Homo sapiens: one gene and its partners. The protein of the gene in region 1 purifies or fractionates together with the protein of each later gene. This does not show direct contact. Each region holds a gene or a part of one and is shown on either strand. Other genes may lie near its edges.

The links.
Region 2: the proteins of OPTC (region 1) and ITIH2 purify together in Homo sapiens (affinity purification with mass spectrometry; one large-scale study listed by BioGRID and IntAct). This does not show direct contact.
Region 3: the proteins of OPTC (region 1) and AKAP1 purify together in Homo sapiens (affinity purification with mass spectrometry; one large-scale study listed by BioGRID and IntAct). This does not show direct contact.

Annotation. Positions count from the first base shown.
Region 1 is NC_000001.11:203,504,007-203,506,886, forward strand, and holds part of OPTC (opticin precursor), read left to right. Parts: exon of another isoform or gene 1-47; intron 48-272; exon of another isoform or gene 273-2,880. UniProt on the Homo sapiens protein: Inhibits angiogenesis in the vitreous humor of the eye, and therefore represses neovascularization. Binds collagen fibrils.
Region 2 is NC_000010.11:7,706,316-7,709,815, forward strand, and holds part of ITIH2 (inter-alpha-trypsin inhibitor heavy chain H2 precursor), read left to right. Parts: intron 1-885; coding exon 886-918; intron 919-2,706; coding exon 2,707-2,876; intron 2,877-3,500. UniProt on the Homo sapiens protein: May act as a carrier of hyaluronan in serum or as a binding protein between hyaluronan and other matrix protein, including those on cell surfaces in tissues to regulate the localization, synthesis and degradation of hyaluronan which are essential to cells undergoing biological processes.
Region 3 is NC_000017.11:57,088,179-57,091,910, forward strand, and holds part of AKAP1 (A-kinase anchor protein 1, mitochondrial precursor), read left to right. Parts: intron 1-3,732.

The DNA of each region.
Region 1 (2,880 bases):
TTTTCCATATTCCCCATCTCTTGCACCCACACAGAATGCCAAGAAAGCTGTGGGAGAGGAAGAGGGGGAGGAGGAAGAGAAGGAAGAAGTGGGGAAGAGGAGAGCAGTGATGTGCTGGAGCCAGCTCTTACTACTTGCAGGAACCGATTACTAAATTTTCCAGAATTTTGCAAGTCAGTTGTTAAACACAGCCATTATGAAAAATTAAATTATATAAACTCACAATTAAATATATTATATTGAAAACAAATGTAATAATTATTCAAAAATCATCATTTTCAATTAGTTTACTATATTTCACTATTAATCGTGCCCTTGAAGTTATTTCTGTCCATGGTGTCTGTATGGGGGAAACTCTAGATAATGGTGTGCTACTGGGCATCTCTTCCAGCTCCTCATTCAGTGACATCATATCGGTGGTTTAAAATGGGCCATGGTAGGGGTATTTACACTACAGAAATTGGTAAACACTACAAATTGGGATTTCCTTTTTTGAGAGCTGACTGTAAAATGTTTGCCTGCATACCACTGAGGAGAAAGAATAGCTACTTAAACCAGCTCCCCCTACCTGCACACCATCCTACTGGGGCTGAGGTAGGTAAGATTTCTATAGGGCATTCCTTCATTTCCTGCTCTTCTGAGGCCAGGGCCTCCTGTTAGATTTGGAGGGAGCCATTCATAAGGATGGAGAACTGACACGAATCTTCACCCAGATGCGCTTCTTGTAGCACTTACCTACTCCCTGGCTCGCTGGCCAGTCTCTTGAGCGTGGTTGGCTCAGCCAGCTGGGCTGGTTCCTGGCTACTGGGGTTTCCATCCTTCCCATTCGCTCCTACATGTTCGACCACCAGAGGGCAGCCTTGTGCAAAGATAAATAAAAATAGCAATTACTCACCTTCTGCCTTTTGGATCCTGGGCAGGGGCTACTATGCTGGAAGGATGGGAGGAAGGGCAACTATCATGTAGCCAGTGATTTGTTCCTTGAGTTAGAAGGGAGAGGAGGAGATGCCACCCTTCTCCTGACCGTTATAAGGAGGCTTTGGGCAAGGGGTATGTGATGGACGGGCTCTTGGCCTCAGGCCTCATGCTAAGGCATGAGAGAGGGATGAGGCAGGGAATTCACTTACTCACGCAGGAGGATCTTATGGAGCACCCACTGCTACGTGGTGATAAGATGGTACGCAACAGAAACATATTCCTTTTCCTCAGAGAGCTTAGAATTTAGTGCAAAAGACAGGTGTGAAACAAATAAGCACACCAATAACCATGCTATTCAACTCATAAAAGTGCTGTAAAGGGTATGTAGAGAATGCTATGAATGCTTACAAGAGGAGGACCCAACTTAGGGGTCCAGAAGATCTTGCACAACTGATGTTTAAGCTGAAACCCAAAGGAGTGGGAGTTAGCCAGGCAATGAGTTGCCAAGGCAACTATTCAAGGTCCCTGGTGGTCCCCGAGTCTGGAGGGACAGGTGTTTCTTGTGGGCCACGTGGAAAGGAATCCATGTATCTGCCTCCCCCCACCTCACTGTGCACTTGGATCCTCACGGCGGTCCTGTAAACAGCCAAGTCAGAAATTATTATTCACATTCTTCAGATGGAGAGATGGAGAACTAGAGACCAATCACTGACCCCAGTTCACACGGGTGACTCAGGGTTGGACCAGGACTCAACACACAGGCTACAGACTGGCAGTGGGAAGTCTTGAAGGTGGTGGGAGGTGACTTCATGCCGTCATGGTACCTACCCTCACTCCCAGGGAATCTAGGATTCCAGCGCACCTGGCCCCAGGGAAGGACGGGGAAGGCAGTGAGCCAAGGGCCCCTTGACTTTCAGAGCAGCAGAGCTGTCACTGGCCCTTCCTCTCCTTTGCCTCCTCTTTCTGTCTTCCAAGAGTTTGTTACAGCGGAATCTCTCTCTCTGTGTGTGTCTCTCTCTCTCTCAGAGTGTGTGTGTGTGTGTGTGTTTTCTGTCTCTCTCTCCCTTTCTCTGTTTCATCCACCAATCCTATCCCCTTCCATATCCAATATCCCGTTCCATATCCTGCTTTATTGGATTATGACAAGGCCTAGGCATGCAACAGCTGAAAGCCTAAAGTTCTCCAAATGCAAGAGATCCTGGATTGAGGAATCCAATTTTCTTTTTTCTTTTTTTTTTTTTTTTGAGATGGAGTTTCACTCTTGTTGCCCAGGGGGGAGTGCAATGGCGTGATCTTGGCTCACCACAACCTCTGCCTCCCGGATTCAAGCAATTCTCCTGCCTCAGCCTCCTGAGTAGCTGGGATTACAGGCATGCGCCACCACACCTGGCTAATTTTGTACTTTAAGTAGAGACAGGGTTTCTCCATGTTGGTCAGGCTGGTCTCGAACTCCTGACCTCGGGTGATCTGCCCGCCTCGGCCTCCCGAAGTGTTGGAATTACAGGTGTGAGCCACCACTCCTGGCCGAGGAATCCAATTTTTTCAAAAATCTAATTAAAAAAAAAAAAGGTTTTCCAGAACTGGGGCTTTTGGGTACTGGAAGCCACATCATTCCCACATGCCTCTCGGTTACTCTTTGCTGAATACAGAAAGTCACCTGGCTCCTGCTCTATTGTGGGACAGGAGATCTAACAATCCCTGGACTCCTGGAGTTTGCCAGACCTATAATAGAAGCTTTTCTGTGCATCAACTCATTTAATTCCAGCAAAAACCCTAGTGAGTAGGGATGCTCATCTTCAGACTGCAGATGAAGAAACAGGCTTCTGAAAGGGGAGAGGCCCAAACCCAAACAGCAAGAGAGTGGCAGAGCTAGGATTCAATCCGGGGTCCATCCAGCCAGAGTCTGAAGTCCTGCTCTCTGCCACACTCCAATGCAGACACCATTTTCAAGTTCCAATTAAA
Region 2 (3,500 bases), on another chromosome or scaffold:
AACACCCGACTTCTTGGATCTATTATTAACAGCTCACCAAACATTACATGTTCACCCACCACCCTTAAGCCATTCACTTTCAAAGGCAAGGGAATCGCCTTTGTTCATTTCCTCAGGACAGTCAAGTGTATGGATAATCTCCTAGCATGGTGGTTAAAAGCATAGAATTTTCTAGGTGCCAGTCACTGTGTTTGCCTCAGGGGTTACACTGTGGAGGAAATACATGAAAATCCCTGCTTTTATGTAGCTTAGTTTAAAGGAAGAGACAGACTTTAGTCAAATAATCCCTCAAATAGAATGAATCATTATGAAACAAGGTGAGCACTCTGCAGGAAGGAATATGCTGCTGCAAAAACACTTAGTAAAGGAAACCGACCTAGTCTTGGGGTGTTAGAGATTTTCACTGGAGGAATTCTGCTGGAGCTGAGATCTGAAGGGTGAGTAGGAGTTCTCCATATGGGGGTTGAGGAACCTAGCAGGGGCACTGCAAACAGTGGGAACAGCATGCCCACAGCCTCATGGCCGAATGGAGGATCAAAGTCTCCATTCAACTGAGTAAAAAATAGAGCAAATAGCATCAAGGGGATATACGCTACCCAGGATGCATTTGGTTGAATATTTTTATTTAAAAATTACTTGTTCTAGCATTATATCCAAGAATGACACACACGCCACCAGAACTGGTTGAGAAACTTATTGAGAAACTCACCAGTGGGAAAATAGTTTTCAAGAATATTCAATATTTATGTCTCAACTCCAGTGAATGAATAACAGCTCAGTATTGAAGAAAAATAAAATTTCTTTTTTGACTGAGAAAACGGTTTTGGCTCTCAAGGTAATAAGTGACATACAGTTGAAGAATGATTGTCTAACTTCCTTTCACAGAGAAGCCTTCCAGGAGAATCGGAAGAAATGATGGTAAGTTGACTTGATGTTGTTACAGATTGAATGATTTTCCTGTTAATAATTACCAGGAAATCAATCTGGGTGTCTCTTTTTTCTTCATCACCGAGTATTTACCTGACTTTCGAAATACTGCCTTGCCCAACTGTTTGCAAGTGTTTCTAAAATTCAGCATTGAAGAGTGCAGTCTTTACAGACAGGAGAGAGGCCACCAAGAGCTGAAGGGGCCCTTCTCTTCATTTTCTTGAGTTTTGCCATATATCATAGGTTCCTTCCCACTGTATAAATTTATGTATTTATTCCTACTCAACCTTTTTGATTTATGTATTTATTTTTACGTTTTCATTTTTATTTTTATTTTTTTGAGACAGAGTTTCACTTTTGTTGCCCAGGCTGGAGTGCAATGGCATGATCTCAGCTCACTGCAACCTCTGCCCCCTGGGTTCAAGAGATTCTCTGCCTCAGCCTCTCAAGTAGCTGGGATTACAGGCATATGTCTCCTCGCCCAGCTAATTTTTGTGTTTTTAGTAGAGATGGGGTTTCACCATGTTGGCCAGGCTGGTCTCGAACTCCTGACCTCGGGTGATCCACCTCCCTCAGCCTCCCAAAGTGCTGGGATTACAGGCATGAGCCATTGCTTCCAGCACCATTTTGATTTAAAGTATGACACCTGACAGCTTTGGAAAATAAAAGAGTGCCCGTGGAAAGGAACTTTTAAACACAAAACGGCCCAGTTCCCTGAGATGTTCAGAGTAGACCATCCTGTGGCAAGAAAACAGCCTGAGGACAAGTGGCTTATGTTGTGCTTCCTGCCCTGAATTGGCAGAAACTGCCAGAAGTGCACACTTCAGGGGGAGGAAGGACACATAGATTAGCCTGGATTTTATTTTAGCTTGAGGTGAGTTGCATGGTTAATTAGTCGAAAGGTTTAATGTTGGACTACAAAGTTTGGGGAATGAGACCTGGTATTGAGATAAGTAAATTCTTTTGGAGAAAAAAGCAAAATCTAATGGGTCTCATAGTTGTCCATAGACCTGAAGGAGCTTGCAGCTCTCAGTCACCTCCTGAAAGGTGTGGGTTTCTAGGACCTTGCCTTTGAGCACACTTACATATGTGATTCTTCACACAGGAGCTGCTTTAAATCAGTAGTGATCGGGTAAGGAGGTCCAGAGTGTTGGACCAATACTTGCATCAGAATGCCCTGTCCAAGATCAATGTCTCTTGCTTACACCCGTCACTGTTCTCCTAGCTTGTTTTGACTTGGGGGAGGAGAAAAGGACTGCAGATGAAATTGTAATAGAGGAGATTAAAGAAGGTAGAGAGCTGTAAGGGGGGGTTGGTGGAGGCCATATGTGTGTTTCCACCCCACAGCACCCCTGTGTGACCCCTACTAAAGATACAACCAAGTTCCTCTTTCAACCTCGCAATCCAGTATCCTCTCCCCAGCTGATGGTCTTGCATTTGGAGTTATTACCTGGACTTCCTCAATCCAATCTGGCTTCCCACACCGTTTTCTACTTGTATTCTAATTTTTGAAAAATCATTATTTATAGACTCATAGGGCTGAAAAATGCCTTTTAGCTCAAAGTATCTTGAAACCAAGGCAGACTTCTGCTCATTGCGGGTTCCAAGAAGTTAGGAGAATGCTTAACCATACATGAATTCTGTCCTTACCAAGGCCCTGGAATTGTTCTGCTAGTAAAACAAGTAAAATGTAGTGTTGTTAACATCAAATGCACTACATTTGATGAAGTTCTGTGTGATTTTTCTATCAGTACAGTTATGCTTTCTTGCCAATTTCAGGAAGAGGTTGATCAAGTAACTCTTTATAGCTATAAAGTCCAGTCTACTATTACTTCTCGGATGGCCACCACCATGATCCAGAGCAAAGTGGTGAACAATTCCCCGCAGCCTCAGAATGTCGTGTTTGATGTTCAGATCCCCAAAGGAGCATTCATTTCCAACTTCTCCATGTGAGTAACTTCTGTGTAGAGCCAGAAATTGTAGGTGCTCTACTCACAGAATCAAAACCCCTCATAGTTAGAATGGACTTTAGTGGTCAACTGTCCCAGAGGACCGGCTGGATGTCAAGGGTCATTGTGAGGTTGGTCCCAATAATTTTCTCCTCTTCAAAGCGTTAGAACTTGTGAATTATTTGCTTTTTGTTTCTAATAAGCTAAAGCAAACTTAAGGCTATCTCTGTGGTAACAACCTCATACTTACTTGCATTTTAATATACTTTCTAGGGAGGAGAAAAATATACTGGGTTGCCCTGGCTTATAGGAAACCACATAAGAGCGTGTGCACAGCAGGTCAATGCCATCTGCCATATGTTTCTCTATGGGAAAAAAAAAACAAGTTGAGAACCACAGATTAAATCTAATTACTTATCCAGTGCTTGACCTCCTCTATAACACCGCTGACAAGTGTGTGATGATTTCCTTGATGATAAACTCACTTTTCCCAAGGCAATCAACTCAGTGATTGACAGCTCTGTTAAGAGTCCTTTCTTATACTTCAAATATTTTCCACTTTCTACCCAATGACTCTAGTGATAATCACATAGAATTTTTAAAAAGCTCTCTACAAAATACATA
Region 3 (3,732 bases), on another chromosome or scaffold:
CCATGTTCCTTCCTGGTGTAATACCTCAGGCAGTTTTCACTTTTATGATCATTTAACATTAAGTTCCCATCACATGTGGCATCCCACTGAAGGAACCTCCTGGCCTTGGTACCTAATTTGAAGCTTGGGCTGTGGAAAACATCATCAGTGAGCATGTTTGAAGTAGGACAGAGTCTGGCTGGAGAAACAGGTAGTGGGGGAGCTGGGAGCTAAACTTGAGAGGATGCCTCTTTCTTGATAGTTACTGTGCTAGGTGAGTTATGAGCACACTAATCCTTTAATCCTCACACCTCTGAGAACAGTGAGGGTGAAGCTGGAGGTCATTCTGGATTGTTTCAGTGGCTGTCACACAAATTCAAATTGAGGGGTAGAGGAACTAGGAAGCGTGGGTGTGGAGTTAAAACTAGGTCCTCTGGATGGCTTTTGTGAGAAGAACCAAGGAATATTCTTAAATCCCTGGGCTTTTCTCCTAATCTTTCTGCTGCTTTCTAAGTAGATTGTTAACATTGTGTGTGTTATCATTCAGCATTCTGAGAACTAGCTTTCCAGCAATAAATAGCTTTCAAGGTGTCCTTTGCCTTAACTTTTTCATTTTACTAAATGGTGCAGCCTTGTCCACATTCTGTCCGGGTCTTCACCATCTGGTTGTTTTTCCGGCTTGGTTTGATAGTTTGCAGCAGTCAGTGGTAAACATTGTGTTCCCTGTTCTGTAATGGTGGCTGGTTGTGTTCACCGAGCCAGGTGTCACTAAGGCCCAGTTGCACTTGGGAGCAAAGAAGGGCCCTGAGGTGAGTCCTGGAAGTAAAAATATGTATAACCTAGGGCTGATGAGGCTTGTTTCACTGCTGGGCTTAGCTGACAAGAGCCTGGGACTTGCTGCAGCTCTCAGAGCTGAAACCTGGCGGTGATTCTAGGCAGGCTGGTTGGCCTTCCAGATCTTGGTTTATTCAGTGGCTAAAAGAGGTTTGGTCAAAATTATCAGTATTCAGATTATGGTCCTGGGAGCCTTGGAGTTAGACCAAACGTGCCCAGGGGCCACTGGAGTGATGTGTTTGGGCTGGGGAGCACAGCTCAATGGGTAGTACATGTCAAAGACTTAAGGGGAAAAAAAACAACTCACTGTTCATCTCAAGTTCTTAGCTCTAAGGTGTGCTACTGTTCTAAATATTTTTTATTTTTAAAGATAGCTTTATTTGCCTAAATTTGTCCTGGGTGTGGGGAGTTTAGAGCTGCCTTGTCTGTAGGGTAGCTGCTAGCTGTGTGACTAATTAAACTTTTCAAAGTATTTTTAAAAAAATTTCTTAGTGACATTAGCCACATTTCAGGTTCTCAGTGGCCTCGTGTAGCTAGTGGCTGCCGTCCTGGTCAGTACAGGTCAAGAACATTTTCCATAATCGAAGAAAGTTTTGTTGGACAGCGCCGGCCTAGAAAGTTTTTTTTTCTCCAACTCTAAAAGCTTAATTGTCTCAACTTGTAAATCTCTAAAGCATAACATGTTTGAGCTTAGTCTTCCAGAGTCCATAAACCCAACAGCTTTGGTGACAAATTATCTACTGGTTGTCTCCATGGCATACTACAAGTGAGTTCTAGTCTGCCAGTTGGGAGTGGACGAACAGTTTTGAAACAGTTTGAGTGAGGACCTTCAGAAAGGACCTGGGGACAGGAGCGTGAAGCAAAGGTCCAGATGCTAAGCCCTTAGAAAGCCCTTTTGGTTTGAAGCCGTTTATTATCATAAAGATCCCTGCTGGTTTGTCCTTGGTCTCCAAATGTCAGATGTCAACATATTGTTACTTGGTCCTTCACCCACCTGATGACTTCCTACAGATCTCAGTGCGGCCCTTCTCTTAAACGAGGTTGTGTTTTCATTCTGCTGTTTCCAGTCCACCTAAATGTTAGGGGCCATTCTTCACAGAAGGTGTTGGGGGAGAGTGGGGCCACAGCGTGGATGCTAACGTGTTCTGTTGTGGCAGGGGTGGGGAGTTCTTTGTTTCCAGATGCCCCCTCTTCTAGTCCTGGGTGTGCTTTGTTTGAACCCTGCTAGATTGACCTTTGGTATATATAATGTGAGATCTCTTTTCTTGGAGCCAGGCAGCATAAAGGACACTTACTGATGAGCACCTACTGGCATATTAGTGGCTTTTTTTTTTCTGTGTCATTTTTATTCTCTGTCAGCCCTATGAGGTTAGTACAGTGATTAGTTTGTGGGTGAAGAAACAAGATCCGAGTAGAGTAAACTGGTCCCTGGACACAGCAAGGGCTGGACTGGCTTGGACCTGGGCTGGGGCGTGCTCCCCACCTCCTCCTCTGCCCCTGCCGCCCCCCATGCTCATTGGTTGTTGCTTATTTACTGCCCCTTTATCACCACATCCTCATTCAGGAAACTAAACTGGGTTTTACAAAGATTAAAATCATTGATCCCACATATGGAGTCTGACTTAAGTGTGTTCAGCCTCGTTACAACTCTGTGAGGGAGATATTCCCTATTACAGAACATCTTCATTTTATGGGAAACTGAAGTACAGGATCCTACTCTTAACTCTCTTGTCTTTCCAAAGCCATATTTTATCATCAGAATTATGCAACCATCGGGTGCTTTTGAAATGCACAAGTAATGACTATGAATAAAAAAAGCTGTGCCTGAGGGCTCAGGGAAACTGCTCTGAAGACTGAGCTGATTGAAAAAGACAATCCTGAAGTCACTAATTTCCCGACACCTGTCAGACCTCACTTGGAGGTCACAGACCATCTCCTGGCCCTCCAAAGGCTGTCACCCAGCAGTAGCTGGCCTCCTGATTAGAGGAGGCAGTAAGATCTTTTCAAGCACAGCCCCAGCCCCCATCCCTTCTCTGGCCTGGGCCTGGATGTGCCTTTGTGAGGTTGGGTCGATGACAGATCTGAAGGACAGTTCAGTCTTCTGTACACTCCTTCTTGCCCCTCCTTTCTGCCACTCCCAAGAAAAAGGAGCAGGAGTGATTCTCACTTTCCTGAACTGCCTTGGAGGGAGACCCACACTCAGCTGTGCCTTTAGCTGTCTCTGGGAGAAAAGGCCGTGCTGCAAATAACCTCCCTGCTTTGTCCTTTGGCTTTGGTGTGGCTCACCTGGCCAAGCATGTGCTGGTGCTATTTTTAGCAGGTGGCATCCTTTAGGAGGGCCAAGTGCATGTGGCTGCAGTGTACGGGACAGGTCCTGGTGCCAAAGCTGCTGCTGTCTCTGCTGCCACCGCCTCGTCAGGAGAGAGAGGAGAATAAAGCCACCCTGGAAGCTGCCAAGGGGTGTGTGGAGGGGGTGGCTGCTTAAGAGGTCTCCAGGGCTGCCTTTTCTATTCTGGATCTGTGGCAGGGGCCCAGCCTGCCTCCTGGTGCAGGCAGGCATGTGACTGAGGCAGCCCGGGGAGCTGGGGAGCTGGGGAGCTAGGTGTCAGACTGCTGCCTGGGGAGTGAGGACCCCTTGTTGCCCCAGCAGGCAATTTTTCAGGAAACCACATAACCCCATTAAAAACATTATTTATTTATTTATTTATTTATTTAGAGATGAGGTCTTGCTTTGTCACCCAGGCTAGAGTACAGTGGCTCGATCATAGCTCACTGCTGCCTTGAATTCCTGGGTTCAAGGGATCCTCCTGCCTCAGCCTCCCAAGTACCCGGGACTATAGGTGCACATCATGATGCCTGGCTAGTTAAAAAAATTTTTTTTGTAGTGATGGGGTCTCATCACCTTGCCCAGACCCATTT